Homo sapiens: one gene and its partners. The protein of the gene in region 1 interacts with the protein of each later gene in a biochemical or structural test. Each region holds a gene or a part of one and is shown in the gene's direction. Other genes may lie near its edges. The genes, in order: DLG3, FZD4, CACNA1A, PDLIM4, PLEKHH2, CACNA1D and PLEKHA1.

Region 1 (4,045 bases):
TGGTACCTTAGGGCATGTGTCCAGGAGGCTACAGTGACCTTTGTTCTTTAGGAAGTACCAGTGAGTGTTATGAGTGTCTGGATTATGTAGAAACTTCTAACATCCCTACAACATTTTCTTGTAAACATAATTTTCCTCTTACATCAACTTTCATTTAATCTCATAGACTCCATTTGTGAGAGATGGTCTTTTATTTAGCTCACCGTTGTCTCCATTTTAGTTTTTCTTGCATGCTTTAAAATCCATTGTTCTGTTTTTTTTTTTCTTCTGTCCTTCCCCTCCATCTTCATGTTCTTTCACAGTCGATCAAAACGAAACGTAAAAAGAGTTTCCGCCTCTCTCGAAAGTTTCCATTTTACAAGAGCAAAGAAAACATGGCCCAGGAGAGCAGCATACAGGAACGTAAGTAGCAGCAGAGTCCAGAGAGCAGGCCATCTGCAGCCCCATCCTCTCATCCTCAGTTGCCCTTCCCTCGAGAGAAGCCTGGGCAGGGCCACGTGTGGCCTCGTGCCTGCCTGTGTGCGTGTGCACCTGCTTATCTACAGAGTCAGGGCAGAAACTGGTCTGCCTAAGGAGATGTTGGGTTTTATTTGTCCTGCTCCTCAGTTAGAATGAATGTTGGAGGCACTGAGGTGGGACTGGTCCCAGGGTCAGCCTCCAGGAAGTGCCTGGCACTAGCAGTGGAAGTGCCAGACAGAGCTCTGCTGTGGTGGTGAGGAACGGTTTTTTAGCTAGACTGTCAGGGTCAGGAAAATGGTTTTTCAAGAGAACAAGGTCTAGGGACTCAGTGTTGCTCTCCTGGTTTCTTCCTCTTGTGTTTTCTTTCCCTTAACTTCACTCATGTATGTCAAGAGAAGAGCCTTTTCTTCCCAGGATCCCTGGAGTTGGGGCTACTTCTGGAATCCCATGCACGTGCATAAGCATACAGGATATCCACACAACTCTCAGCAGACTCGCTGTCATCCTAGAGTGCCTACAGAGCCAGTTTTCCCAGGAGAATCCTTCCTGCTTAAATGAGTTGACATGGAAGGAGTGTTGCTCCACATTGTTCAAATAAAGATCTATTGAGAAACACAAAGTTGGTTCGGTAGGAAGAGCAGTCACACTGAGCTAAATTCAACGGAAGAAGAAATTTAATCCTGATAAATCTTCTTGCTCTACCGTGTGCCTCAGCAATTAACTGCTCCAACCTTAACCTTAAACACCAGGTCTGGCTTGAAAAATGTCTTCTCACTTGTCTCATCATGAACAGTAAACATCTCTCATTTACCAGTGACTCCTCTGTCTTACATGGAGGGATCTTGGGGTCTTGGTCTATTGGGGCTGGCAGGAGACTGACTGGTTCTGATAGGAAATGTCCTTCTGTCAGGCCAGCTTGGTCCACAGTCATGGTATGTGTAAGTCATTGCTATCTGGGGTGGTACCTGGTGGACAGAAGGGTGCCCTCATCTAGATGGCAGCCACGGCTCATCATCCTGGAGTAGTTCAATGAGAAGCCATAGACGGGGTGGCTCTGCTCATGAGCAGTTAGGAGACAGTCTGAGTCAGAGGCCTGAGGTGATGTCACCATAGTTTCATCAGATGAGTCCCAGAGTCCCTCCATGCCAAGCCCAGCCTGGGGAGGTGTTCATTGCTCAGTGGTCCCGCCTGGTGGGCGAGGGGGTATCTACTGGATGACAGAGTTGAAGGTGCCTAGTGCTTCTCCAGAAGCTGAGCTCATCCCCCAAGATCTGTCCAGCTCAGGGCAGCTTTGGAGGCCACACTCTACACCATGCGAAACTTTTCCTGAAGGGTTTGAACAGAGTGAATCAGTATTGGGCAAAGGCTTCTTGAGGTGATGGCAATTCTATCTGCCTACCTGGCACACGCGGACATTTGCTCTTTCACGCACTGCAGAGGGAAATGGTGATTTCAGGGGCAAACAGAGACCTGGGCTCCACAACCAAAATTTAGTCAAAGCAGGTGCTCTAAGCCTTGGAGTGTCACCTGTCCTGTCCCATTGGCCTACAGCTGTAGACACCTCAGAAAGCTAGTCTACTCCAAGGCCCTCTGGCAATGAATTGGGCAGCATGAAGTCTTGATGTCTTATCTGCCCTGGGATGTTCTTTCTGTGGCAAAGTTCCTGGCCTCACTATAGTGCTAGGTCTTCATGGTGTTTCATAATTCTGTCACTAGTGCTCACCTACCTCTGTATTCTTCCTCCCCCCTTGTCTTTTTCTCTATTTTTTCTCTTCTCCCCAAATCTCTCCCTCTCTTCCATTCCCTCCCATCCCTTCCCCTTCCCCCCTCTTCTCCCCGTCGTCCTCTCTCCGCCCTTGCTGTCTGTGAAATCAGGACTTCCCGGGGTTAAGTGACGATTATTATGGAGCAAAGAACCTGAGTAAGTCCAACTTACACACCGTTCACTGTACTTGTGGCATGAATGGAGATAGTGGGGGTGGGGCTATTGGGGACATGGGTGAGGGTGAAGGGTGAGGGGAGGGCAGTGTTTGTGAGCACTCTGACATCACAGCAGGAAGAAGTGCATGTGGCTCCATATGTTACATGTTTGCTATGGATCCCTAGTACCCAAATAAGTCCATATCATTCATGCCTTTGTTTACCTTTTGCTACTCAAAGTGGGAGGGCGTGAGCATGGCATCCCACCTTAGAAGTGAAGTAAGCTTGAAATGTTTCTCCAAGGTAACCACTCAGCTAATCTCTAGCCTATTGTCGAAGGGAGGGGTGCCTGCTGGTTGGATTCTTCTCCCAGTGATACCACGCTAAAGAATTGGGTGTAGGAATTGCAGCTGTTAACAGTCCTCTAACTAGGGGCAAGGGTACTGTGACCCCTTTTTCCCAACCTGCATCTGAGATGTCCCAGCAGATCCCGGGCCTCAGCAAACAGCCACTGTTTGGCTTCCCACAGAGCACCTGTAAGGGGTTGAGCTGGTCTGCTAGGGGCCTCAGCATCATTTATGGACCATATATAGTTAGTGCTTTATCTCAGGAAAACTCCAACCTCATTTTCCTTTCTGGAAAAGAATCCTGGAGTGGAAAATGAAAAAGACCTAGATGATGAGGCCTTAGTGGCCATCCTGCTGCGTGCAAGGGTGCACAGACACCAAATGGGTTCTATCAGCATATACTCTCCTTCAATAAATAATACAGACCAAAGGCAAAGGAGTTGCCCATGGGGATTGTTCAGGAACTAGCCATGTGTGGCAACTCAGCCAGTCCTTTCTGGGTGGGGGGGCCACAGCATATCATGGTCTGGAACAGTGTGGTCTTGGCTGAAATGAGCAGCATCTCTCTCCATAGTTTGGTGTGTCCATGTCTCATCTTCATTCGCGTGTCATCTTGGATGGGCGGGCTTTGTTTGTGCCTCCTACGAGCGCTGCTCCTCCGCCTGAGCTTTCTTTTCCCTCACCACTAAGAGATGGGCAGATCCCAGCTGTGTGAGACAGGAGGGCTGCCTTGTCCTCAAGGTGTTTTTGTTGGTTTTGTTGTCTGTGTTTTGACATATGTGTCTGGTGGTGGATGGAGATGCTTCCCCTCTCACCACTGAAGCCAGGCTCTCCTGCTTTGGAGTGGTGGCAGGAAGGCTGGGGAGCCCACCGAATGGTCAGAGCAGCGCTCCCTGGTGTCTGCTTAACCCATCCAGCGTTTGGCCTCTTAGTTGTGGAGTGCCACATGGTTCTGTACTTCAGGGGCTCTGTTGGGCGGGGGACACCCATGAGCAGACTGGTCCCTGGACTTCTCTTTGCTCCTGTCACTGTCTTTTCTTTCCTGTTGTTAGCCTTGGGAGATGCATTTTGAAATACGATTTGGAAACCATCCAGGTCAATTTGATTCAGATGAAGAGGATGCTGCTGAAGGAAGTATGGCTTGTAGTACATAGGGAGGGACTTGGCAGACCAAGAGGGCTCTGGGGACAAGTACGAGAGGGCCAGGGGCTCAGGATTGGAGCTGTGCCTCCCAGTTGGTAGCCTGGATGTGGCAGGCCTCTGGTGGCCTGACTCAGTTGGCAGCTCAGTGTCTCGCTCCTGGAGCATTTGAGTTTTGT
Region 2 (4,045 bases), on another chromosome or scaffold:
GTTTCTAAAATGGAAGGAGATTGAAAGCCAGTTTTTTAAGATTTATTTCAAGTGTTGTGCAAAGAGGGCTTATGCAATTCTTCAGACCCTATTTATTTTATTTATTTATTTATGTACATTCTTCTGGAAAGGATTACTAAAGCCAAACTAAGAAAAGTATGTAAGTGATGGATTATCAGGCGCCCTTGTTTGAGGTCAGAGTAAACAGACAGACTCCCGATAGGTTGGTTTAAAAGTAGATACCTAGATTGCCTGGAAGCATTCAACTCAGCTTTGTGGGAGCATTTGGTCAAACTTCCAAGTCATTGTTTTTTTTGTGTGTGTTCATTTTGTTACTTTTCCAGTTCTTCCTTTGTTCTGTTTATGTGCCAATGTGCACAGAGAAGATCAACATCCCCATTGGCCCATGCGGCGGCATGTGTCTTTCAGTCAAGAGACGCTGTGAACCCGTCCTGAAGGAATTTGGATTTGCCTGGCCAGAGAGTCTGAACTGCAGCAAATTCCCACCACAGAACGACCACAACCACATGTGCATGGAAGGGCCAGGTGATGAAGAGGTGCCCTTACCTCACAAAACCCCCATCCAGCCTGGGGAAGAGTGTCACTCTGTGGGAACCAATTCTGATCAGTACATCTGGGTGAAAAGGAGCCTGAACTGTGTGCTCAAGTGTGGCTATGATGCTGGCTTATACAGCCGCTCAGCCAAGGAGTTCACTGATATCTGGATGGCTGTGTGGGCCAGCCTGTGTTTCATCTCCACTGCCTTCACAGTACTGACCTTCCTGATCGATTCTTCTAGGTTTTCCTACCCTGAGCGCCCCATCATATTTCTCAGTATGTGCTATAATATTTATAGCATTGCTTATATTGTCAGGCTGACTGTAGGCCGGGAAAGGATATCCTGTGATTTTGAAGAGGCAGCAGAACCTGTTCTCATCCAAGAAGGACTTAAGAACACAGGATGTGCAATAATTTTCTTGCTGATGTACTTTTTTGGAATGGCCAGCTCCATTTGGTGGGTTATTCTGACACTCACTTGGTTTTTGGCAGCAGGACTCAAATGGGGTCATGAAGCCATTGAAATGCACAGCTCTTATTTCCACATTGCAGCCTGGGCCATCCCCGCAGTGAAAACCATTGTCATCTTGATTATGAGACTGGTGGATGCAGATGAACTGACTGGCTTGTGCTATGTTGGAAACCAAAATCTCGATGCCCTCACCGGGTTCGTGGTGGCTCCCCTCTTTACTTATTTGGTCATTGGAACTTTGTTCATTGCTGCAGGTTTGGTGGCCTTGTTCAAAATTCGGTCAAATCTTCAAAAGGATGGGACAAAGACAGACAAGTTAGAAAGACTGATGGTCAAGATTGGGGTGTTCTCAGTACTGTACACAGTTCCTGCAACGTGTGTGATTGCCTGTTATTTTTATGAAATCTCCAACTGGGCACTTTTTCGGTATTCTGCAGATGATTCCAACATGGCTGTTGAAATGTTGAAAATTTTTATGTCTTTGTTGGTGGGCATCACTTCAGGCATGTGGATTTGGTCTGCCAAAACTCTTCACACGTGGCAGAAGTGTTCCAACAGATTGGTGAATTCTGGAAAGGTAAAGAGAGAGAAGAGAGGAAATGGTTGGGTGAAGCCTGGAAAAGGCAGTGAGACTGTGGTATAAGGCTAGTCAGCCTCCATGCTTTCTTCATTTTGAAGGGGGGAATGCCAGCATTTTGGAGGAAATTCTACTAAAAGTTTTATGCAGTGAATCTCAGTTTGAACAAACTAGCAACAATTAAGTGACCCCCGTCAACCCACTGCCTCCCACCCCGACCCCAGCATCAAAAAACCAATGATTTTGCTGCAGACTTTGGAATGATCCAAAATGGAAAAGCCAGTTAGAGGCTTTCAAAGCTGTGAAAAATCAAAACGTTGATCACTTTAGCAGGTTGCAGCTTGGAGCGTGGAGGTCCTGCCTAGATTCCAGGAAGTCCAGGGCGATACTGTTTTCCCCTGCAGGGTGGGATTTGAGCTGTGAGTTGGTAACTAGCAGGGAGAAATATTAACTTTTTTAACCCTTTACCATTTTAAATACTAACTGGGTCTTTCAGATAGCAAAGCAATCTATAAACACTGGAAACGCTGGGTTCAGAAAAGTGTTACAAGAGTTTTATAGTTTGGCTGATGTAACATAAACATCTTCTGTGGTGCGCTGTCTGCTGTTTAGAACTTTGTGGACTGCACTCCCAAGAAGTGGTGTTAGAATCTTTCAGTGCCTTTGTCATAAAACAGTTATTTGAACAAACAAAAGTACTGTACTCACACACATAAGGTATCCAGTGGATTTTTCTTCTCTGTCTTCCTCTCTTAAATTTCAACATCTCTCTTCTTGGCTGCTGCTGTTTTCTTCATTTTATGTTAATGACTCAAAAAAGGTATTTTTATAGAATTTTTGTACTGCAGCATGCTTAAAGAGGGGAAAAGGAAGGGTGATTCACTTTCTGACAATCACTTAATTCAGAGGAAAATGAGATTTACTAAGTTGACTTACCTGACGGACCCCAGAGACCTATTGCATTGAGCAGTGGGGACTTAATATATTTTACTTGTGTGATTGCATCTATGCAGACGCCAGTCTGGAAGAGCTGAAATGTTAAGTTTCTTGGCAACTTTGCATTCACACAGATTAGCTGTGTAATTTTTGTGTGTCAATTACAATTAAAAGCACATTGTTGGACCATGACATAGTATACTCAACTGACTTTAAAACTATGGTCAACTTCAACTTGCATTCTCAGAATGATAGTGCCTTTAAAAATTTTTTTATTTTTTAAAGCATAAGAATGTTATCAGAATCTGGTCTACTTAGGACAATGGAGACTTTTTCAGTTTTATAAAGGGAACTGAGGACAGCTAATCCAACTACTTGGTGCGTAATTGTTTCCTAGTAATTGGCAAAGGCTCCTTGTAAGATTTCACTGGAGGCAGTGTGGCCTGGAGTATTTATATGGTGCTTAATGAATCTCCAGAATGCCAGCCAGAAGCCTGATTGGTTAGTAGGGAATAAAGTGTAGACCATATGAAATGAACTGCAAACTCTAATAGCCCAGGTCTTAATTGCCTTTAGCAGAGGTATCCAAAGCTTTTAAAATTTATGCATACGTTCTTCACAAGGGGGTACCCCCAGCAGCCTCTCGAAAATTGCACTTCTCTTAAAACTGTAACTGGCCTTTCTCTTACCTTGCCTTAGGCGTTCTAATCATGAGATCTTGGGGACAAATTGACTATGTCACAGGTTGCTCTCCTTGTAACTCATACCTGTCTGCTTCAGCAACTGCTTTGCAATGACATTTATTTATTAATTCATGCCTTAAAAAAATAGGAAGGGAAGCTTTTTTTTTTCTTTTTTTTTTTTTCAATCACACTTTGTGGAAAAACATTTCCAGGGACTCAAAATTCCAAAAAGGTGGTCAAATTCTGGAAGTAAGCATTTCCTCTTTTTTAAAAATTTGGTTTGAGCCTTATGCCCATAGTTTGACATTTCCCTTTCTTCTTTCCTTTTTGTTTTTGTGTGGTTCTTGAGCTCTCTGACATCAAGATGCATGTAAAGTCGATTGTATGTTTTGGAAGGCAAAGTCTTGGCTTTTGAGACTGAAGTTAAGTGGGCACAGGTGGCCCCTGCTGCTGTGCCCAGTCTGAGTACCTTGGCTAGACTCTAGGTCAGGCTCCAGGAGCATGAGAATTGATCCCCAGAAGAACCATTTTAACTCCATCTGATACTCCATTGCCTATGAAATGTAAAATGTGAACTCCCTGTGCTGCTTGTAGACAGTTCCCATAACTGTCCACGGCCCTGGAGCACGCACCCAGGGGCAGAGCCTGCCCTTACTCACGCTCTGCTCTGGTGTCTTGGGAGTTGTGCAGGGACTCTGGCCCAGGCAGGGGAAGGAAGACCAGGCGGTAGGGGACTGGTCTTGCTGTTAGAGTATAGAGGTTTGTAATGCAGTTTTCTTCATAATGTGTCAGTGATTGTGTGACCAAGGCAGCATCTAG
Region 3 (4,045 bases), on another chromosome or scaffold:
AAAAAATAGGCTGCAGGAAAGTCTTCATTGTAGGAAGAGAAGGGACATTTTTATTTTTTGTTATCTGGCTGTGTGTTAAAATAGGCTTCATAATGAGTTAGATGTCAAACTTATACACAGAGGGGATAGCAATACACTTAACCAATAGCAGGTACCCATTCCAATTGGGGAGCCTTGGTTCTGATTGGTCGAAATATTTCAAATGTTGCCCCTGGTCAGCAACAGGGTCAGAAGTGAGTCCCCAAGGCCTAGTTCATGTTTTGTGAACAAAGATTCCACGTGCCTTTTAGGACGAGCAAGAGGAAGAAGAAGCAGCGAACCAGAAACTTGCCCTACAGAAAGCCAAGGAGGTGGCAGAAGTGAGTCCTCTGTCCGCGGCCAACATGTCTATAGCTGTGTAAGTGCCCCTAATCCCTGGGATGCTACCCTGGCTCCTGAACGTCCACACTATCCCAGGCACAGATTTGGGAAGCAGTGGGGGTGGTCCTTGACAGAACTGAGCTTTAGGAAGAGACACTTCTTGTCCTTCCACCCACTTTCACTCAATAAATATTTGGTTAGCAGCTGTTATGTACCCAGCACTGTTCTAACTTCTGGGGATACAGCATTAACAAGGAGGAAAAAAAAAATCCCACCTGTGTGTAGCCATTCTAGCAAGGGAAGGAGTCAATAAATTAGATAAATAAGTAAATTATATATTGTGTTAGAAGGCGATGGAACTACAGAGAAAGTAGGGGAGGGAAATAGCAAATGCTGGGAGTGAAGAGAGTTGTGATTTTAAACGAAGTTGTCAGGGAAGGCATCACCTAGAATAGGGGTCCCCAGTCCCGGGGCTGTGGACTGGTACCAGGCCGAGGCCTATTAGGAACGGGGCTGCACAGCAGGAGGTGAACAGTGAGCAAGCAAGCATTACCGCCTGAGCTCCACCTGCCGTCAGATCAGCAGGCAGCATTAGATTCTCATAGGAACACAAACACTATTGTGAACGGTGCATCTGAGGGATCTAGGTTGCGTGCTCCTTTTAAGAATCGAATGCCTGATGATCTCAGGTGAAACAGTTTCATCCCAAAACCACCCCCCACACCTAGGTCTGTGGAAAAACTGTCTTCCACAAAACTGGCCCCTGGTGCCAAAAAGGTTGGGGACTGCTCACCTAGAAGGTTACATGGCCTGAAGGAGGTGAGGGAGGAGCCACTGGGGGGCCTGGGGAAGGGCATCCCAGGCAGAGGGAACAGCATAGGCAATGGCCCTGAGGCAGGAACATGCCTGATGTGAAGGAGGCCTGTGTGACTAGAATCGAATAGTAAGTGTGAGGAGGTGAAGGCAAGGAGGTGACAAGCAGATTACACAGGGCCTTCTGGGTCAGGGGGGAGGACTTGGGCTTTTGCCCCTAGCCAGGTGGGAGCCATGGAGGGTTCTTGAGCAGAGGAGGCTGGGACCTGACTCAGATGCTCACAGACTCCTAGCATTCAGTGGGGAGTAGAGGGTGGAGAGCAGGAGTGGGAGGCTGAGATGTGGGTTGGTTCGCCTGGGTCATCCATCCAAGCTACAGTGCCTAGCAATGCTCTAAGTCCTGTGACCATGCCACTGCAGGAAAGAGCAACAGAAGAATCAAAAGCCAGCCAAGTCCGTGTGGGAGCAGCGGACCAGTGAGATGCGAAAGCAGAACTTGCTGGCCAGCCGGGAGGCCCTGTATAACGAAATGGACCCGGACGAGCGCTGGAAGGCTGCCTACACGCGGCACCTGCGGCCAGACATGAAGACGCACTTGGACCGGCCGCTGGTGGTGGACCCGCAGGAGAACCGCAACAACAACACCAACAAGAGCCGGGCGGCCGAGCCCACCGTGGACCAGCGCCTCGGCCAGCAGCGCGCCGAGGACTTCCTCAGGAAACAGGCCCGCTACCACGATCGGGCCCGGGACCCCAGCGGCTCGGCGGGCCTGGACGCACGGAGGCCCTGGGCGGGAAGCCAGGAGGCCGAGCTGAGCCGGGAGGGACCCTACGGCCGCGAGTCGGACCACCACGCCCGGGAGGGCAGCCTGGAGCAACCCGGGTTCTGGGAGGGCGAGGCCGAGCGAGGCAAGGCCGGGGACCCCCACCGGAGGCACGTGCACCGGCAGGGGGGCAGCAGGGAGAGCCGCAGCGGGTCCCCGCGCACGGGCGCGGACGGGGAGCATCGACGTCATCGCGCGCACCGCAGGCCCGGGGAGGAGGGTCCGGAGGACAAGGCGGAGCGGAGGGCGCGGCACCGCGAGGGCAGCCGGCCGGCCCGGGGCGGCGAGGGCGAGGGCGAGGGCCCCGACGGGGGCGAGCGCAGGAGAAGGCACCGGCATGGCGCTCCAGCCACGTACGAGGGGGACGCGCGGAGGGAGGACAAGGAGCGGAGGCATCGGAGGAGGAAGTAAGTGGAGGTGACCTCGAATCCGCAGAATGACGGTAACATTAATAATGACAACAGCCAAAGTAGCACGTGCTGTGTATTTGTTTATAAAAATATATTATAAAATGCTGTATTTGGCCAGGCGCAGTGGCTCACGCCTGTAATCCCAGCACTTTGGGAGGCCGAGGCGGATGGATCACGAGGTCAGGAGTTCAAGACCAGCCTGGCCAAGATGGTGAAACCCCACCTCTAATAAAAATACAAAAATTAGCCGGGCACGGTGGCAGGCGCCTGTAGCCCCAGCTACTCAGGAGGCTGAGGCAGGAGAATCGCCTGAAAACAGGGGGCGGAGGTTGCAATGAGCCGAGATCACACCACCGCACTCCAGCCTGGGCGACAGAGTGAGACTCTGTCTCAAAAAAAAAAAAAAAGTGCTGTATTTGGCCAGGAGCAGTGGCTCATGCCTGTAATCCCAGCACTTTGAGAGGCCGAGGCGGGCGGATCACTTGAGGTCAGGAGTTGGAGAACAGGCTGGCCAACATAGTGAAACCCCGTCTCTACTAAAAATACAAAAATTAGTGGTGGTGCCCACCTGTATTCCCACTACTCAGGAGGCTGAGGCGGGAGAATCAGTTGAACCTGGGAGGTGGAGGTAGGTTGCAGTGAGCTGAGATCGTGCCATCACACTCCAGCCTGGGCAACAGAGCAAGACTCTGTCTCAAAAAAAAAAAAATGCTGTATGTTTTTGTTTTTTTGACACAGGGTCTCGCCTGTTGCCCAGGCTGGAGTGCAGTGGCAGTCATAGCTCAGTGCAGCCTCTACCTCCCGGGCTCAAGCCATCCGCCTCAGCCTCACAAGTAGCTGGGACCACAGACATGTGCCACATGCCTGGCTAATTTTTGTAGAGACAGTGTTTTGTAGAGACAGGGTTTCACTGTGTTTCCCAGGCTGGTCTCAAACTCCTGAACTCAAGCATTCCGCCTGCCTTAGCCTCCCTAAAGTGCTGGGACTACAGGGTTGAGCCACCACACTCAGCCTAATTTTTTTACCTTTAGTAGAAATGAGGCCTGGCTCTGTTGCCCAGGCTGGTCCCCAACTCCTGGCCTCAAGCAATCATCCCACCTCAGTCTCCCAAAGTGTTCGGATTAGAGGCTTCACAGATGGGGAAACTGAGAGATTGAGTGAGCTCCTCAAGGTCATTCCTCTAACCAGTGTCCTTGAACCCAGGCTCTCTGGCACCAGAGGCCTTGAGCATTTCAGGGAAACTATTAAGAGAAGCCCCACTGTCGTCCAGAATTATATAGTCTTCTGTGTTCTTGCTGTGTGACTTTTGCAAAGTGACTTCATATCTCTGGGCCTCACACAATGGAAATAGTGGGATCTAATTGGGTCATTGCCAGGATTGAATGAGGTAATGTATGCAAAGGGCCTGGAAGAGCAGCTGACACATAATAAGTGCTCGGTAAATTTAGAGCATTTTTGGCCATTTTCAGCCAACTCTATTTACCTAATGCTATTCTTTGGAAGTTTGAAAAGCCACTCTGTTGGGAGGCCAAGGTGGGAGGATCACTTGATACCAGGAGTTGGAGACCAGTCTGGGCAATAGAGGCAGACCCCATCTCTATAAAATATAAAAAATTAAACAGATGTGGTGGCATGCACC
Region 4 (4,543 bases), on another chromosome or scaffold:
ACACACACCCCAAATACACTCCCATATAAACACCGCTACCACACACCACTTGTTTCTCTCCCAGCTGAACAGATAGCAGCATCTTGCCTCCTACAGAGGCACCCACATTCTACTCTGAAGGGCCCCTCCCTTCCTTGGACTGCCCTAGGTTTGTGCTTCTCAAGCAGTTCTCCTCTTTGCGGGTTGTCAGAGACCCAGTGGACACATTTCATCCCACCACCTGTGAGGAGCCCAAGAGCAGGGTCCTTATCACAGCTTGACTAAAAGGACACATAAGGTTAAGGATTTGGGCTAAATGAGAGACCTCCACAGAGTCTGGAAAAGTAAAAGGTGTCTCCCTGATGTAGCCAGATAGAAGTGCCGAGAGAACCAGAGGGAGGTTGGTGGTGCCATGGCATCTGCATTGGCTGTTCAAGTACATCCCCGGAGGATAATGGTTGGGAATGGAGAGAAGACCTTGGAGAGAAAAGGGCCCAAAGTGAAGCGCTGCATATATTTCTTCCCTTTACACTGCACAGCCACGACCCCAGCCGCTCCAGCTGCTACTTTCTCAGGAGACCTGGGGAAACAAATCTCCTGGCAAAGGACGAGGGGAGGGGGCTGTGCAGACAGGGAGGTGGCCTGCGAGGAGCCTGCAAGCAGCAAGAGAAGGCCTGAATGTTCTGGGGAAGCAGGGACACCTTGCTTCCAGATACAAGTCAGGGACCACCTCTTCCAGGAAGCCTTACTGGCCTCCACAAACTAGTCTGAGGACCTTTCTGTGTCCACTCCCACGCTCGGCGCTGCCTGCTGTCGTTTTGGGTCTGCGTCCCCGGCCCAGTGCTGCGCAAGCCCCTGGTTCATAGGGTTCTTGGTTCAGAGGGCTCCTCACACGGCAGGATGGGCCGCAGGTGTGCCAGTCGGGCCCATGAGGAGGTATCTGAGCTGGGGCAGCCCCATCCCCCAAGTGGGCCCTCCATCCCTCCTCGGGCTGGAGCACCGCCCCTAAAAGCGACTTCAAAGGGCCGGTGTCGACAGCTGGGTTTGGGTCCGCGGCCTGCAGATCCAAGGCCCGAGCAGGATCCAGGCCGTCGGGGCCGTCCGAACGCGGGGATCTCTGAGAGCTGAGTGGGGGTGCCGGGTTGCCGGCAGCCGGGGCTGAGGGCGGGTCCTCAGAGCCCCCCGAAGTGGGAGGGTCGGGCTGGCCGCGGGGCCAATCCAGGCGCACAGGGAGCGGGGGCGGGGGCTGGGCCGAGTGGGGACAGGGGCGGGCGGGCCGGGGGCGGGCGCGGCGTCCAGGCGGCGGCGGCGGCTGCGGCGGCGGCGGCTCCTCCTCAGAGTCCGGCTCAGGCTCCGGCTGCGGCTCCAGCCCGCGATGCCCCATTCCGTGACCCTGCGCGGGCCTTCGCCCTGGGGCTTCCGCCTGGTGGGCGGCCGGGACTTCAGCGCGCCCCTCACCATCTCACGGGTGAGTCTGGCGGCTGCGTGGCGGCAGGGCGGTCCCATGTCTGAGACCGGGTTCTCGCGGTCCGCCCGGGACCCAGATCCCCTGTGTATCCGAGGCTTGAAGGCGGAGGGTTGGCCTGGGCGCCCCGCATGCTGTAGAGGCGGCTTCCAGGCAGAGGCAGGCAGCCCCAGCCGCCCTCCTCCCACGCTGGGCCTGTCTGCCCGATCCCGCGAAGAATCTCCCAAGAGTTCACGCACCCGCCTCCCCGCTGGCCTCATCTGGGGGAGCCACTGTGGACCCGGGAAGGACCCGCGGAGATGGGCCAGGGGTCTAGACAGCTCTACAGAGGCCCAGAAACTCTTCAGACTCACCCCCTGCCTGAAGATCTGGGGCAAAATGATTTAGAGCCCCCCTTCCCCTATCAGGGGTCCCTGCCGGCAGAGCTTGGTGACCCAGGGAGGTCTGGGGTCCTCGCTGAATCTGAGAAGACAGAGGTCCATCCACTTCCCACTTTGGGCGTGAGTCAGTCTCTCATTCACGACCTCAGTCACCCTAAGGGGAAGTGACCAGGAGGAATTTTGGCTTCCAGGGGAAAGGGAGACTTAACTGTGAGGTTGTGAGACCCCTCCCCACAAGATGACACAAAGCCGGGGGCCAGGACAGCCTCAGGCCCGTTCCTCAAGTTTCCCAGGGCCCTGCCTTGCCCACAGAGAAGGAAAAGGAGCCGGCACAGCCCTGGAGCGTGGCTAGTCTGAGGATAGAGGAGTGGAGGAGGTGACTCAGGCCCTGTTCGAGGGGGTGCCTGTCTAGGGGAGACAGGATCCTGGCCCAGCCTCGACATCCTCGTGTCTGGAGGGCCAAAAGAGAGGACTCAGACCCTGCCCTTGGGGGTCCCCAGCCTAAGGGACAGAAGAGGAGAGAACCCAGGCCCTGCCCTTGGCGGCTCTCAGTCTGGAAGGAGCAGAGGAGATAACCTGAAACCATCTGACGGCCATCCCTTGCTCCCACACAGGCTGATCTTGTCTTTGGGGGCCTGTGTCAGAGGCACAGAGAAGCACCTTCCCCCACCCTACTGCCACCTCTTGCCATGGGGGCTGGGCCAAGCCGGCTGGGCTTTAAGAGACTTCTGTCCAGTTCTTGGGAGGGGGTGGGCACCAGGTGGAGCGTGGAATCATGGAATCCCGTTTCTGGGGGCCAGGGTGACAGGCAGGCCCAGCTGTCCTAGGAGGCTTCCCACATCTGCCCTCACTGCCAGGTCCCTGGGGCCGAGTGAGGTGGGCCTTCAACACATCCCAGAGCCTTTCATCTCCTCTTTCCTATAGGATTCCTGCTGTGTGTGTGTGTGTGTGTGTGTGTGTGTGTACGCAAGCCTGTGTCTGCTTGTGTGTGTCATGCTGTGTGTCCGCTGAGGGGGCTGGTGGGGACACTAAGCGGGCTGGCCAGGCACCCTGGGCGTGAGGCCGCTGACAGGCTCAGTGGCGGCGGCTGACGGCTGCAGGCGGCAGGGAGCTGAGACATCTGTTGCCCACGCGGCTGCCTGCCCTCCGAGGAAAGGCCTCCACACGTCACAGCTGCGGCTGCGGCAGCAGCAGCAGCAACAGCCTTGTTTGGAGCTGACTGGGGATGCAGGCCCCAGGCAGGCAGTCTGGGAGAAGGTTTGCCAGGAAGAGCCTCCTTTGTCCCCCAAAGTCACGCGGCAGCAGCTCAGGCCCAAGGAGCCAGGATGGCTGAGGTTGGGTTTGGGTGGGATCTGGGGAGATTTACAGCGCTGGGGAGGCACAGGCCACAGCTTGCCTAGCAGGTACCTCTGGGGCAGGTCTACAGGGACTGAAGATATGTGGGAGTGTCTTCACCAGTGGGGCTCAAGATCCAGCCCCTCCCTTGCTTCCAGGACCTCCCCTACGCGGGACCTGGTAGGGAGGGACAGCCTCACACAGACAGGGAGGAGGCTATCGGCCCGGCAGGGCTGGGGGCTTGCAATCTCAGCCCATGAAGCCTCCAGGAGTCCCAAGAACATCATCCGGGGCTCCTTCCCCACAAGCTATAATGATGGCTGGCCTTGGCCAAGCATCCAGGGTGTGCCAGGCCCTACCCTAATGGGTGTTGGTAACAGCTCCCTCCAGTCCCTGTAGTGAGCACCACCTTATTTATGCCCAGCCTCCTGTGGGGGCTTTACATGCCCTGTTTTTCTCAAATAGTCCTTACAACAGCCTTTAGAAGTAAGGACTCCCTCTGGCCTTACATAGATGGAGACCCAGGCACAGAGAGGCTAATGTAATCAACCTAGAGAAGCAGAGTGGAGACAGGAGGAATCCAGGCAGTCTGCAGTTTGCTGTGACTGTGTAGGACAATGTGGCACCTGGTTCTGACTTGGACTCCCAGCCCACCACATCTAGGCTGGGTGGAGCAGGGGCTGGGAATGCAGCCACTACCGGTAAGGGGCTGATTCATGCCCTCACCGCCCACCTGACTTCACTGTTCCTGTCTCTGTTCCTTCTTTCTGTTTATCCTGTGCTTAGGAGCTAGACGGATCGGCCTGAATTCCACTCTGTCCTGTGACTTCCCGCTTAGAGCCCTCCATGGTTCCCAGCCACCCAGGAGAAATGCCAGCTTCCCACCCGGGTGTACAAGACTCTGCAATATCTGATCCCTGCCTCTTCTCTGACTTCATCTCTCCCACTCTCCCCTCACTCATGATGCTCCGGCCATACAACCTTCCTTCTTCTTTCTCTCCAGATATGCCATTATACATGCTGGTCCTTCTGCCTGGAACACTATCTCTCCCTCAGATACTCTCTTTTCCCTTACCCCCTTTGGAAGAAAAATGCAGGTGTTAAGAGCATAGTTTTAAATTTGGAATCAGGTGGCCTGGATTGAAATCTTGATTCAGTCTTTTATCAATTAACTATCCTTCTGTACTTCTCTGGACCTCCGTTTCCTGATCTAGGAAATGGGCTTGCCTTCAGGATTAATGAGATAATGCATGTAAAGGTGACTGGGAGAGTCACAATTTCTTGGCCTCACGCCCTCTCTGACCAGAACTCCCCTAGCTCAATAGAGCTGGCAGCATCCCAGCCACCACTGCTTTCAAGAAACTTCCTCCGCCCACAGAAGCCT
Region 5 (4,045 bases), on another chromosome or scaffold:
TTATAGTTTTCAAAAACTTGTGTTTAAAAAAGACATAAGACTAACACAGGATAATGTAAATTATTTGTATGAAATTTTTGGTTTATTCCTTTAAAAAAAATAGAGGCAGGGTCTTGCTCTGTCACCCAGGCTGGAGTGCAGTGGCTGATCATAGCTCACTGCAGACTTCAGCTCCTGGGCTCAAGCAATCATCCTGCCTCAGCCTCCCAAGTAGCTGGGACTACAGGTACACACCACTGCACCCAGCAAATTTCTACAGTGTCAATTTCTACAGTGTAGCTACATAAAGCTAAATGTACAGAAAGATTATATTCTTAAAGGCAGCATGCTGATATGATGTATCCTTTTCTAGAAATGGAAATTCCAGAAAAGTCTGTTGATAACCAAGTTCTAGAAAACAACAGAGGCCAGAGAACATTGCATCAAACCCCTTGTGGCTCAGAACAGAATCGGAAAACAAGAACAAGCTTTGCCACAGATGGTGGCATCTCCCAGAATTCTGGGGCTCCTGTGAGTGACTGGAGCTCTGATGAGGAAGACGGGAGCAAAGGAAGATCCAAGTCCAGATGCACATCCACCCTCTCCAGTCACACATCTGAGGAAGGGGTCCAGTGTAGCAGGATGGGAAGTGAAATGTATCTGACAGCATCTGATGACAGCAGCTCTATATTTGAGGAAGAGACTTTTGGCATAAAGAGACCAGAACACAAGAAGCTATATTCTTGGCAGCAGGAGGCACAGTGGAAAGCTCTAAATAGTCCTCTTGGAAAGGGAAATTCTGAATTAAGTAAAAAGGAACAAGATAGTTCCTCGGATGAACTGAATAAAAAATTTCAATCCCAGAGACTCGATTATTCATCTTCATCGAGTGAAGCCAACACCCCAAGCCCTATTTTGACCCCAGCTTTAATGCCAAAGCATCCTAACTCACTCTCTGGAAAAGGAACACAATTAGTGCCTTCATCACACCTGCCACCCCCAAAGTTAAGGATTCCTAATGTTTTCAGTATAAGTGTAGCACTAGCCAAAAGGCACTTAAGCCAGCCACAGTTAAGCTCTGACAGGATGTTTGGTACAAATAGAAACGCTATAAGCATGATACGACCACTGAGACCTCAGGAAACTGATCTTGATCTAGTTGATGGAGACAGTACAGAAGTTTTAGAGAATATGGACACGAGTTGTGATGATGGATTATTTTCCTATGACTCCTTGGACTCTCCAAATTCAGATGACCAGGAACACTGTGACTCAGCAAAGAAGGTGGCATACAGCAAACCTCCAACTCCTCCCCTGCACCGTTTTCCTTCTTGGGTAATTATATCACCGCATGTAACACATACGCAGTAGTTTTTTTCTCAACACTTTTTTTTTCTGGGAGGGAGTCTCGCTCTGTCGCCCAAGCTGGAGTGCAGTGGCGCGATCTTGGCTCACTGCAACCTCCATCTCCCGGGTTCAAGTGATTCTCCTGCCTCAGCCTCCTGAGTAGCTGATACAGGCATGCACTACCATGCCTGGCTAATTTTTGTATTTTTGGTAGAGACGGGGTTTCGCCATGTTGGCCAGGCTGGTCTTGAACTCCTGACCTCAAGTGATCCACCTGCCTTTGCCTCCCAAAGTGTCCACACTCATTTTCAAGTTTTACTTTTTCTTTTCTTCTTTCCTTTCAAATCCAGCTTTGTTCTGACGTTTTCCAGTTTTTAGGATAAAATTTCTTCTTCTCTTCCCTCACTGAGTTCTGAATCAATTGAGAAATAAGATAATGACAAGACAGATGGGAGATCAAGGTATTACCTTATTTACTGATAAAACTAATTTTAGAGAATTAGTGGGCAAATGAGCTTTCTAATACTGAACTTTGAGATTAGCTGGATTGAGTCACCTGTTCCCAGGAAGCCCTGGACCACCACAGGATTCTGCTACTGAAGCCATGCCCCTCTAAAACTTACTACCTCAAAAAACAGAACAGATGGTTGTTTCCTGCAGGCAGCTACTTCTCAAGAGAAAGGGGAGAGGAAGTTGCCAGGCTCTGCATGCCCAGTTTCTCCTTCTCAGCTTACCAATCACATTAAGCCACTCTTCCTCTTGGGGAGGGGAAAGTGAATAGGTGGAGAGGGATCAGCAGTGTTCAATTACTGGAGGTTCCTCCATGTGGAAGGAAACATTGGAGGTGGGAAAGAAGGGTTCCCCCTAACTGTGATATTTTGGGTGAATTCTGAACCGGGACACTTAACTCTTGTTAGTTATAAGTTTTTGAACTTAGTCGTTATTTGATTGGCTTTAAGATAAATTTAATTTTCTTTTTGAGCTTATATAGCCATTGGTTTCCAAAGTATCTTTCTACAGACCTAGAATAGATAAAATCTTCTTCCATTGAAACATTGACCATTAGTAGGATAACACTGCTAGACTAAAAAAAAAAAAAAATTCTTCCAATATTTGAAATAAAATGAAATGATCTGTTTAATTTTAATTTTTTTTTTTTTTTTTGAGATGAAGTTTCACTCTTGTCTCCCGGGCTAGAGTGCAATGGCGCCATCTCAGCTCACTGCAACCTCTGCCACCTGGGTTCAGGCAATTCTCCTGCCTTAGCCTCCCAAGTAGCTGGAACTACAGACGTTTACCACCACACCTGGCTAATTTTTTGTATTTTTAGTAGAGGTGGGGTTTCACCATGTTGGCCAGGCTGGTCTTGAATGCCTGACTTCAGGTGATCCACCCACCTCAGCCTCCCAAAGTGCTGGGATTACAGGCGTGTCACGCCACTGCACCTGGTCTGAAATGATCTGTTATAGATTTAAGTTTTTCTTCACATGCTGGCATAATTTAACCTTTGGCCTCCAGAGAAACATCTGGGTTGCAGGACTCTTTTGGTTTTTGGAGTCATGTTCTTTTATTACTATATTTTTTATTTTGTGACTGATGCAGTTTTAAGCAAATTAGGGTGGACATGTTTTTCTAATATAAATTCAGAACTTAAGATGTATGTGCTCTTATTTGCTTTCAAGAGGACATTTTATTTCAATATCCACATGAAACCTTCTGTAGTTTATTACTAAATTTTGGATAGCACAGGAAAGTGGAAGTTAATGGCATGTGAATCTCTGGAATTCTAATTATGTTATACTTTAGGCAGCAAGAAATTGAAATTTTGCCTATCTTATGATGTTGAGATTTTCAGAGATTTAGGTTAGGCTTTTAAGTTCGTTTTATTTGGCAACCCATTCTACTACTTTTTTTTTTTTTTTTTTTTTTCCATTCTGTCTTCTCTTACTCTTTTGAAGCTATTCGGTCCTGAAAAAGTAGTATTGCTTTTCAAAAGCCTTCCAGCAGACTGGCCAAGTCTGAGATTTTATTTCTGTGTTTATTAGGTATTTTCAGGTTTCAAGGAAAAGAGATGTATTCTAATTGCCTCAATAAATATGAGTTTATTTTAAAAATTTCTAAGAGCTTATTTTAAGGCATAGCCTATCCTTATTGAACTGGAATACCATGCAAATTACAATAGTCACTCTAGAGGGACAACATGTGATAGTCAGCAGTACCTCCGATAGAAACAAGTGACATCCATTGCCCCTGCTCCCAGTGGCTCAGCTTGTCCTCCCAGGCCTCCAGTCCCCTCTCTCTAATTCTACTACTAACCACTTTCCCCCAGTCTCCTAGGGCTTCAGACTGCCTCCCGTCTCCTGCTTACTGCCCTTATTGTTATATGTCTTTCTGTTGCTGTTTGTGTGTGGGTGTATCTCACACTCAAAGAAACTACATCTGATTCACTCAGCCAGGCACTATTCAATCGAAAATGTCCCTGATAGTCGGAGAACTCATGCCAGTTGCCTCTCAAGCCACTGGCTGTCTTGAAGAGGATGGCCTTAGTTGCCCACTGTGTCCTGGACAGTCAACTGTGTCCAAGTTAGACCCATTATTAAATTCAGGACATGTTGCTCTATGCATTAGGAACCACCTGTGGTCCCTTTTCTCAAGGGAGCAGGGCTAGTAACCTGTCCAGTACCTGTTTCAGAGATTTTTCAGAAGAGAAGAGAAAACA
Region 6 (4,045 bases), on another chromosome or scaffold:
GAAGGAGAGAATCTTCACCTACAGTCTAGTTAATCTTTGTAACAATCCTGTCAAATAGCTATGGCCATGAGTCCCATGCTGCCCAAGCTCACACAAGTGACTGCTGGCATTTGAATCCAGGGAGCCAGCTGCCAAAGCTGGCCTCACTGCCCAGGTGCCTCCCTGCGATCCCCACCACCTCTTCCTGGCATTGAATACAGAGCCTGATGTGATCTGAGCTCAGGGAGTGGGGGCCACTTGGCTGATTCTGAACAAGCGGTGCAGCCCTTCATTTTCTCTAAGAAGTGGTTCCTTCATTAAGTTTATGGGTCCCTCCATGGGCAGGGCCCTGTGGGTACTATGCAGGGTTAACCTCCCCTGCCTACAAAGGGAGCAGTCTGGGGAGAACAGTTTGCCCACGTTGAGGGCGGCTGCACAGGCAAGAGGGTGGGGCCGGAGCCCACTCACTAGGGCTTTCCCTCAAGGATAACAATATGGCGCTTTTTCTTTCTGAAAATATCACATCAGAGATGCCATTCATTCGTGCACGACAGGGTGGTGGGCATGGACCTGTGCTGTTTACAGACAGCGTTCCCCGTCCCTCTCTGCAGAGTGTGAACCCCAAGGTGCATCTGCCGTGGTGGGATTGTAAGACCGGGGCTTGTACCCAGTGCTTTAGCACATGCCAAATGCCGGCTCTAGGATGCATTACTCCAGAGCAAAGAGAACCAGCTGTTTTCCTATAAGTGCTGGGAAGTGGTAGTTTCCCCTGAATGTACTTCGGTATTTAAACCCAGCATGAACTGGGTGGTGTGTTCACACCCACAGCTTGTTGGGCTTCCCTGATTCTTCATTCTGAAGCAATTTCATGAATTAGCAACTGATACCTCCTTGGGAAAAGCCAAAGGAAATGCATTATGGATTCGGGGTAAAAGAAAGCACAGTCTGCTAGAAAACAAAGTCATCACCGCCCATTCATTCAGCGTACTTCAGTGTGCCCATGTCCTTTCCAAGTCCTTGCCTGGACTGCCCCTGGCGAGCGCAGCGCCGGTGCTTGGTCTGTGCGCAGAAGGTTTGAGGCCCGGACCTCTGAGAACCTCTGGTCTCCCAACAGTCCCCTCTTTCCTCAGATCATGGCAGTTGCCGGCCTAGATTCAAGTAAAGCCCAGAAGTACTCACCGAGTCACTCGACCCGGTCGTGGGCCACCCCTCCAGCAACCCCTCCCTACCGGGACTGGACACCGTGCTACACCCCCCTGATCCAAGTGGAGCAGTCAGAGGCCCTGGACCAGGTGAACGGCAGCCTGCCGTCCCTGCACCGCAGCTCCTGGTACACAGACGAGCCCGACATCTCCTACCGGACTTTCACACCAGCCAGCCTGACTGTCCCCAGCAGCTTCCGGAACAAAAACAGCGACAAGCAGAGGAGTGCGGACAGCTTGGTGGAGGCAGTGAGTACGGTTCTTGGCCGTGGTGGGCAGGAAGCACCAGGAGCAGCAGAGGTGCAACTGTAACAGCAGGAAGGGCAGTGGTGGGAGGGCGGCCAGGCTGTGAGCTAGGCTGCCTCAATCAGACACTTCTGAGCAGCAGGAATGTACCTGAAGCATGAGTAAAAACTGGTCACCACCACTGGCTGCAGTGGCTTACGTCTGTAATCTCAGCACTTTGGGAGGCCGAGGCGGGTGGATCACCTGAGGTCAGCGGCTCAAAGACCAGCCTTGCCAACATGGTGAAACCCCGTCTCTACTAAAAATACAAAAATTAGCCGGGCGTGGTGGTGTATGCCTGTAATCCCAGCTACTCAGGAGGCTGCAGCAGGAGAACTGCTTGAACCCGGGAGGTGGAGGCTGCAGTGAGCCGAGATCACACCACTGCACTCCAGCCTGGGCCACAGAGCGAGACTCTTGTCTCAAAAAAAAAAAAAAAAAAAAAAAAAAAACAAAAACTGGTCACCACCGTCAATTCTCATAAATGAGCTGTGCTGGCATTATGGGTGCTGTTCCGGCATATGTTTCTAGTTTATACTAAATGTCTTTCCCCAGTGGGTTTCACTCTTGTTGGGCCATGTGTAGTTTTTTAGCTCCAGGACATTTTCAAAGCCATTTACACTAGTTATTATGTATGAGGTCTAGAAAACATGATTGAGCTGCATCCCCAAAGCACACGGTGCAGTTAAGTTAGCACTGGAGTTGATTTTTCTGTCGTCCCCCTGCCCTGCAAAGCCTTATAACACCCCCATGCCATCCATCCCTCTTTTCTGTACAGGTCCTGATATCCGAAGGCTTGGGACGCTATGCAAGGGACCCAAAATTTGTGTCAGCAACAAAACACGAAATCGCTGATGCCTGTGACCTCACCATCGACGAGATGGAGAGTGCAGCCAGCACCCTGCTTAATGGGAACGTGCGTCCCCGAGCCAACGGGGATGTGGGCCCCCTCTCACACCGGCAGGACTATGAGCTACAGGACTTTGGTCCTGGCTACAGCGACGAAGAGCCAGACCCTGGGAGGGATGAGGAGGACCTGGCGGATGAAATGATATGCATCACCACCTTGTAGCCCCCAGCGAGGGGCAGACTGGCTCTGGCCTCAGGTGGGGCGCAGGAGAGCCAGGGGAAAAGTGCCTCATAGTTAGGAAAGTTTAGGCACTAGTTGGGAGTAATATTCAATTAATTAGACTTTTGTATAAGAGATGTCATGCCTCAAGAAAGCCATAAACCTGGTAGGAACAGGTCCCAAGCGGTTGAGCCTGGCAGAGTACCATGCGCTCGGCCCCAGCTGCAGGAAACAGCAGGCCCCGCCCTCTCACAGAGGATGGGTGAGGAGGCCAGACCTGCCCTGCCCCATTGTCCAGATGGGCACTGCTGTGGAGTCTGCTTCTCCCATGTACCAGGGCACCAGGCCCACCCAACTGAAGGCATGGCGGCGGGGTGCAGGGGAAAGTTAAAGGTGATGACGATCATCACACCTGTGTCGTTACCTCAGCCATCGGTCTAGCATATCAGTCACTGGGCCCAACATATCCATTTTTAAACCCTTTCCCCCAAATACACTGCGTCCTGGTTCCTGTTTAGCTGTTCTGAAATACGGTGTGTAAGTAAGTCAGAACCCAGCTACCAGTGATTATTGCGAGGGCAATGGGACCTCATAAATAAGGTTTTCTGTGATGTGACGCCAGTTTACATAAGAGAATATCACTCCGATGGTCGGTTTCTGACTGTCACGCTAAGGGCAACTGTAAACTGGAATAATAATGCACTCGCAACCAGGTAAACTTAGATACACTAGTTTGTTTAAAATTATAGATTTACTGTACATGACTTGTAATATACTATAATTTGTATTTGTAAAGAGATGGTCTATATTTTGTAATTACTGTATTGTATTTGAACTGCAGCAATATCCATGGGTCCTAATAATTGTAGTTCCCCACTAAAATCTAGAAATTATTAGTATTTTTACTCGGGCTATCCAGAAGTAGAAGAAATAGAGCCAATTCTCATTTATTCAGCGAAAATCCTCTGGGGTTAAAATTTTAAGTTTGAAAGAACTTGACACTACAGAAATTTTTCTAAAATATTTTGAGTCACTATAAACCTATCATCTTTCCACAAGATATACCAGATGACTATTTGCAGTCTTTTCTTTGGGCAAGAGTTCCATGATTTTGATACTGTACCTTTGGATCCACCATGGGTTGCAACTGTCTTTGGTTTTGTTTGTTTGACTTGAACCACCCTCTGGTAAGTAAGTAAGTGAATTACAGAGCAGGTCCAGCTGGCTGCTCTGCCCCTTGGGTATCCATAGTTACGGTTTTCTCTGTGGCCCACCCAGGGTGTTTTTTGCATCGCTGGTGCAGAAATGCATAGGTGGATGAGATATAGCTGCTCTTGTCCTCTGGGGACTGGTGGTGCTGCTTAAGAAATAAGGGGTGCTGGGGACAGAGGAGCAACGTGGTGATCTATAGGATTGGAGTGTCGGGGTCTGTACAAATCGTATTGTTGCCTTTTACAAAACTGCTGTACTGTATGTTCTCTTTGAGGGCTTTTATATGCAATTGAATGAG
Region 7 (4,045 bases), on another chromosome or scaffold:
GAGGTAGGGGGTCCAGCTTCATTCTATGTGGATATCCAGTTGTACCAGCACCAGTTGTTGAAGAGGCTTTTTTCCCCCACATTGAATGGTATTAGCACCCTTGTTGAAATCAGTTGACTATAGATGTATAGGTTGAAATCAGTTGACTATAGATGTATAGGTTTATTTCTGTGCTCTTAATTCTTTTCCACTGATCTATGTCTATTCTCATGGCAAGTTGATAGCTTTTACCTGTGGTATATGGTAGTATAGAGTATTGATTTTTCAAGCTTTGATTACATTGTAAACTTTTTTTTTTTTACAAACATGGTAAATTTATTAAAGAAATTATTTCCTTTAAAGTATCAGATTTATAAGAACAATAACAGCAACAACACACAAACTTATTGGATGGTTTTATTTAAAACTTTTTGGTGTATTTTATCATTTCTCTGACTGCATATGGAATAGTGATGCAGATACATAGTATATCAGTGTGCATTGTAATTGAATTTTCACTGTAAGTTAAATTTACCTTGAGCCTCTAAATAAATAGTTATGTAAATTCATCCTGCCAAAAGATGTGATGGTGCCAGCTATAGAAGTACCAGAATAGTAACAGCTGTCTGGTGCAGATTTGGGCTAAGCATCACATCAAGAAGGAATCACATGTCTGTAGTCTCTAGAGAAACAGTTCTTGGCACCTAATGGTTTTTTAACTTTAATCAGTACAATAAAAGTTGCAGTACTTTAGGACCAGAATATGATACACCTTTTAAGTCTATTTTAATCTATAATGTCTCTCTTTTTCTTTTTTTTCTTGTAATAATTTACTTGCTAAAGAAACTTTTTTTTTTCCTTTGTTTCTTATAGTCTGGCTCTTGCTGATTGAATTCCTTTGGTGCAGTTTAGCATGTTCCTCTGTGTTCTGCATCTCCTGTAGGTTGGTATTTGGATATAGAGGGGATCTAAAAAACATTTTTTCTTGTTGCTTTATGTTCACATGATAGGTGATGTTTGTGTCTTCCATCAGGAGGCACATCATACCTGCTTATCTCTCTTTCCAGTACATTAACTAGTTTATTTTGATTCACTTTAGTTTTAACAATTCAAGGGTTTTTTAGAGAGGATGGTGTAGAGCATAAGATAGGAGATCTAGAGTGCGGTAATCTGGATTCAGGCTTTGACTCTTGGCCTACTAGTTTTGGAATTTTGGAAAATCACTTCCCCTGTGTATTAAGTTCCTTATCTGCTGGGGATGATTATGCCTACTCCTAGGATTGTTTAGAAGATTAAAAGAGTTAACATATGGAAAAGAACCTTGTACAGAGCCTAGCATGTAGCAAGTGGTCACTAAATTTTAACTTTTGTTGTTTTGTGAATTTAAAAATATTCTAAAATAATCTAAAGGATAGATTATCTTGATTTGTGAGGAAATTAAAATTTGGATAACTATTTTTTTTGGCTCACCTGGGGTTTTTTTAGGGAAAAAGTAAGTAAATTATTCAGCTGAGGTGAGTAGCTCTCTGTTGTCCCCATCACAGTGAATAAATAGTTACATTTAGTAACCACTCTTCACAAACTGAATTTCAAAAGTGATTTTTGTCAATGCCTCAGATGTTGGTGTGTGTTCATTTTAATTGACCTTACCTAATGTTGGCAAGTTGCCCCCTCATTGAACAGATTTGCAGTCCATGAGAAATACTTTCCTGTTTCATAGGGAGCTTACTGTTAATATTTTTATTTTACAGTGTAATGTTCAAGCTCAGAAATGCCTTATGTGGATCGTCAGAATCGCATTTGTGGTTTTCTAGACATTGAAGAAAATGAAAACAGTGGGAAATTTCTTCGAAGGTACTTCATACTGGATACCAGAGAAGATAGTTTCGTGTGGTACATGGATAATCCACAGGTTTGTAAAATCCCAAGGATTATCTTTTAAAAGCACAGAAAGTTGTATTTAAGTATTTAACATACTATACAGGCTTTAGATTTGTCTTCTTAAGCAGTATATTTTTAGATTTATTTCTACTGGCTGTCCTCTCTGCCCTGCACCCCTGACCTCTACTGTTTTGTTTGAATTTCAGAAGGTGAAACTAAGTTTATTTGATAAAAATTAATGCTTCTGTATATATTTTTCCCTCGAGAGAGAAATACTCTCTCTGGTGGCAAATTAGGTTTTAGAAAATTAGAACTTGAGTCACAGAAAAAAATAACAATTGAAGCTGTCCCAAAAATAAGAAATACTTTTTTTGTAACATGTATTTCAAACAACAGCTAAAATAAAGACCAGGGATAGATGATTTTCTTGCATTAAGGAGGCTTAATACCAGGGTCCCTTTAGTGAGATTAAATTTAGGTTTAAGATGCTGCATCTAGGATAGAGACTATTATTTTTAAATAAATAAATGACTTAACCACATGATACTCTTGCACATATGTAGTCCTTTTATTTTGTAGTGTCAGATTTGAGTCAGTCATTGTAATGCCATCCATGAACTGAAATGCAGTTTGATTTTATTGTTGCCTTGCAAAACACAGGGGTAAATGCTACAATTTAAAAAATTGGAATCCCAGCCTTAAGAGGCCTGAGATTAGATATCATCTGTGAAGTAGTTTTAAACTTTCAACTTTCTCTACTTTTTTTTTTTTTTTTTTTTTTTTTTGAGATGGAGTCTCTTATCACCCAGGCTGGAATGCAGCGGTATGATTTTGACTCACTGCAGCCTCTGCCTCCTGGGTTCAAGTGATTCTCATGCCTCAGCCTCCCGAGTAGCTGGGACTACAGGGGTGTGCCACCACACCTGGCTAATTTTTTGTATTTTTAGTAGAGACAGGGTTTTTCCGTCTTGGCCAGGCTGGTGTTGAACTCCTGATGTCAGGTGATCCTCCAGCCTCAGCCTCCCAAAGTGCTGAGATTACAGGCATGAGCCACCGCGCCCGGCCTTTTGGAACTTTTTATCTTCAAATAAAAATTGGTGTAGAAGTTAAAAATGGGGTTGTATGTTGCAAGGAAGTATGTGCAAAGCAAGGGATGAATCTCTAGCAGACTTCTAAGCTGATTTTTGTCCAGTAGGCTTCTCGTGTGGGTGAGGAATGGAAGGTCTAGGGAAGAGCAGAGACTTATACAAGGTTCTGTTCTGTTTCACAGAGCAGGAACTAGGTCTGCTGATAAGTAGTCTAGTATTCTTCACTATATACTGATTTTAGATTAGACAAGATATATATGTGTCTATAGTAGATACTAATGTGTGTATGTTTATTTATGTAGAATTTGAGTTGTAAGGGACCTCTCCTCACCCATATGAGCCATTGCACAGTTCTGCCTATTTTCTCTCCCTGATTTTTCTCTCTCTTCACAAGGTCTGGTTGACATATGTATGGTTTCTCCTGAATTTTACTTGAAGCTCCTTGATTATTTTTCTGTGTTCCTACATAATAGATTCTTCTTGTCATTCTTCCTTTATCAGTACTACCCATTTAGCAGAGCTAAAAGGAGTTAAGTACAAAATAGAATATATTTATTACCCTGAATAAAACTTGAACTTGGAATTCAGAGGAAAGTTACACAGCTAGTAGAAGGAGTTGAAGTCTTCATGGAAGTGGTAACATTTGAAATTGACTTAGAAGTTTGGATATAATATTGGCTAAGAGATGGAAAAGTTGAGTATTCCAGTGCTCAAAGAACAGTGTGGGCAGAGATCAAAGCAAGAGAGCCTATGGCGTGTTTGGAGACTAGATCACTTTGGCTATAGCACTCAGCTAGGTCTTGTCCACATAAACTTTTAAAATCCAGATCTCTATGTTAGAATTAATGCATTGGCTTTTCTGGACACAGTGCCAGTTTTTTTTTTAAGTACAGAATTTAAATATTTTTTAGTTTGTTCTTATTAATTTTATATCTTCTTTCCAACTTAGGAAATCTTGATTCTGCCAGCCAGTGTATTAGCCATTAGTACCAACTTGGTGTCACTTTTAAATGTAATAATCAAGACATACCTACTCTTGAAAACTTTAGTAAAATGTCTTGCTAAGATTATTATATTATTTTCTTTCTTTATCAAGG

The links.
Region 2: the proteins of DLG3 (region 1) and FZD4 interact in a test that uses a peptide from one of them, tested with the Homo sapiens proteins (one large-scale study listed by IntAct).
Region 3: the proteins of DLG3 (region 1) and CACNA1A interact in a test that uses a peptide from one of them, tested with the Homo sapiens proteins (one large-scale study listed by IntAct).
Region 4: the proteins of DLG3 (region 1) and PDLIM4 interact in a test that uses a peptide from one of them, tested with the Homo sapiens proteins (one large-scale study listed by IntAct).
Region 5: the proteins of DLG3 (region 1) and PLEKHH2 interact in a test that uses a peptide from one of them, tested with the Homo sapiens proteins (one large-scale study listed by IntAct).
Region 6: the proteins of DLG3 (region 1) and CACNA1D interact in a test that uses a peptide from one of them, tested with the Homo sapiens proteins (one large-scale study listed by IntAct).
Region 7: the proteins of DLG3 (region 1) and PLEKHA1 interact in a test that uses a peptide from one of them, tested with the Homo sapiens proteins (one large-scale study listed by IntAct).

Annotation. Positions count from the first base shown.
Region 1 is NC_000023.11:70,493,074-70,497,118, forward strand, and holds part of DLG3 (disks large homolog 3), read left to right. Parts: intron 1-302; coding exon of another isoform or gene 303-402; intron 403-2,334; coding exon 2,335-2,380; intron 2,381-4,045. UniProt on the Homo sapiens protein: Required for learning most likely through its role in synaptic plasticity following NMDA receptor signaling.
Region 2 is NC_000011.10:86,948,770-86,952,814, reverse strand, and holds part of FZD4 (frizzled-4 precursor), read left to right. Parts: exon of another isoform or gene 1-344; coding exon 345-1,673; 3' UTR 1,674-4,045. UniProt on the Homo sapiens protein: Receptor for Wnt proteins.
Region 3 is NC_000019.10:13,296,902-13,300,946, reverse strand, and holds part of CACNA1A (voltage-dependent P/Q-type calcium channel subunit alpha-1A), read left to right. Parts: intron 1-290; coding exon 291-397; intron 398-1,593; coding exon 1,594-2,403; intron 2,404-4,045.
Region 4 is NC_000005.10:132,256,381-132,260,923, forward strand, and holds the start of PDLIM4 (PDZ and LIM domain protein 4), read left to right. Parts: upstream 1-1,315; 5' UTR 1,316-1,354; coding exon 1,355-1,447; intron 1,448-4,543.
Region 5 is NC_000002.12:43,699,295-43,703,339, forward strand, and holds part of PLEKHH2 (pleckstrin homology domain-containing family H member 2), read left to right. Parts: intron 1-352; coding exon 353-1,314; intron 1,315-1,715; exon of another isoform or gene 1,716-1,787; intron 1,788-4,045. UniProt on the Homo sapiens protein: In the kidney glomerulus may play a role in linking podocyte foot processes to the glomerular basement membrane. May be involved in stabilization of F-actin by attenuating its depolymerization. Can recruit TGFB1I1 from focal adhesions to podocyte lamellipodia.
Region 6 is NC_000003.12:53,808,869-53,812,913, forward strand, and holds part of CACNA1D (voltage-dependent L-type calcium channel subunit alpha-1D), read left to right. Parts: intron 1-1,109; coding exon 1,110-1,430; intron 1,431-2,244; coding exon 2,245-2,538; 3' UTR 2,539-4,045. UniProt on the Homo sapiens protein: Voltage-sensitive calcium channels (VSCC) mediate the entry of calcium ions into excitable cells and are also involved in a variety of calcium-dependent processes, including muscle contraction, hormone or neurotransmitter release, gene expression, cell motility, cell division and cell death.
Region 7 is NC_000010.11:122,391,451-122,395,495, forward strand, and holds part of PLEKHA1 (pleckstrin homology domain-containing family A member 1), read left to right. Parts: intron 1-852; exon of another isoform or gene 853-922; intron 923-1,730; 5' UTR 1,731-1,750; coding exon 1,751-1,891; intron 1,892-4,045. UniProt on the Homo sapiens protein: Binds specifically to phosphatidylinositol 3,4-diphosphate (PtdIns3,4P2), but not to other phosphoinositides. May recruit other proteins to the plasma membrane.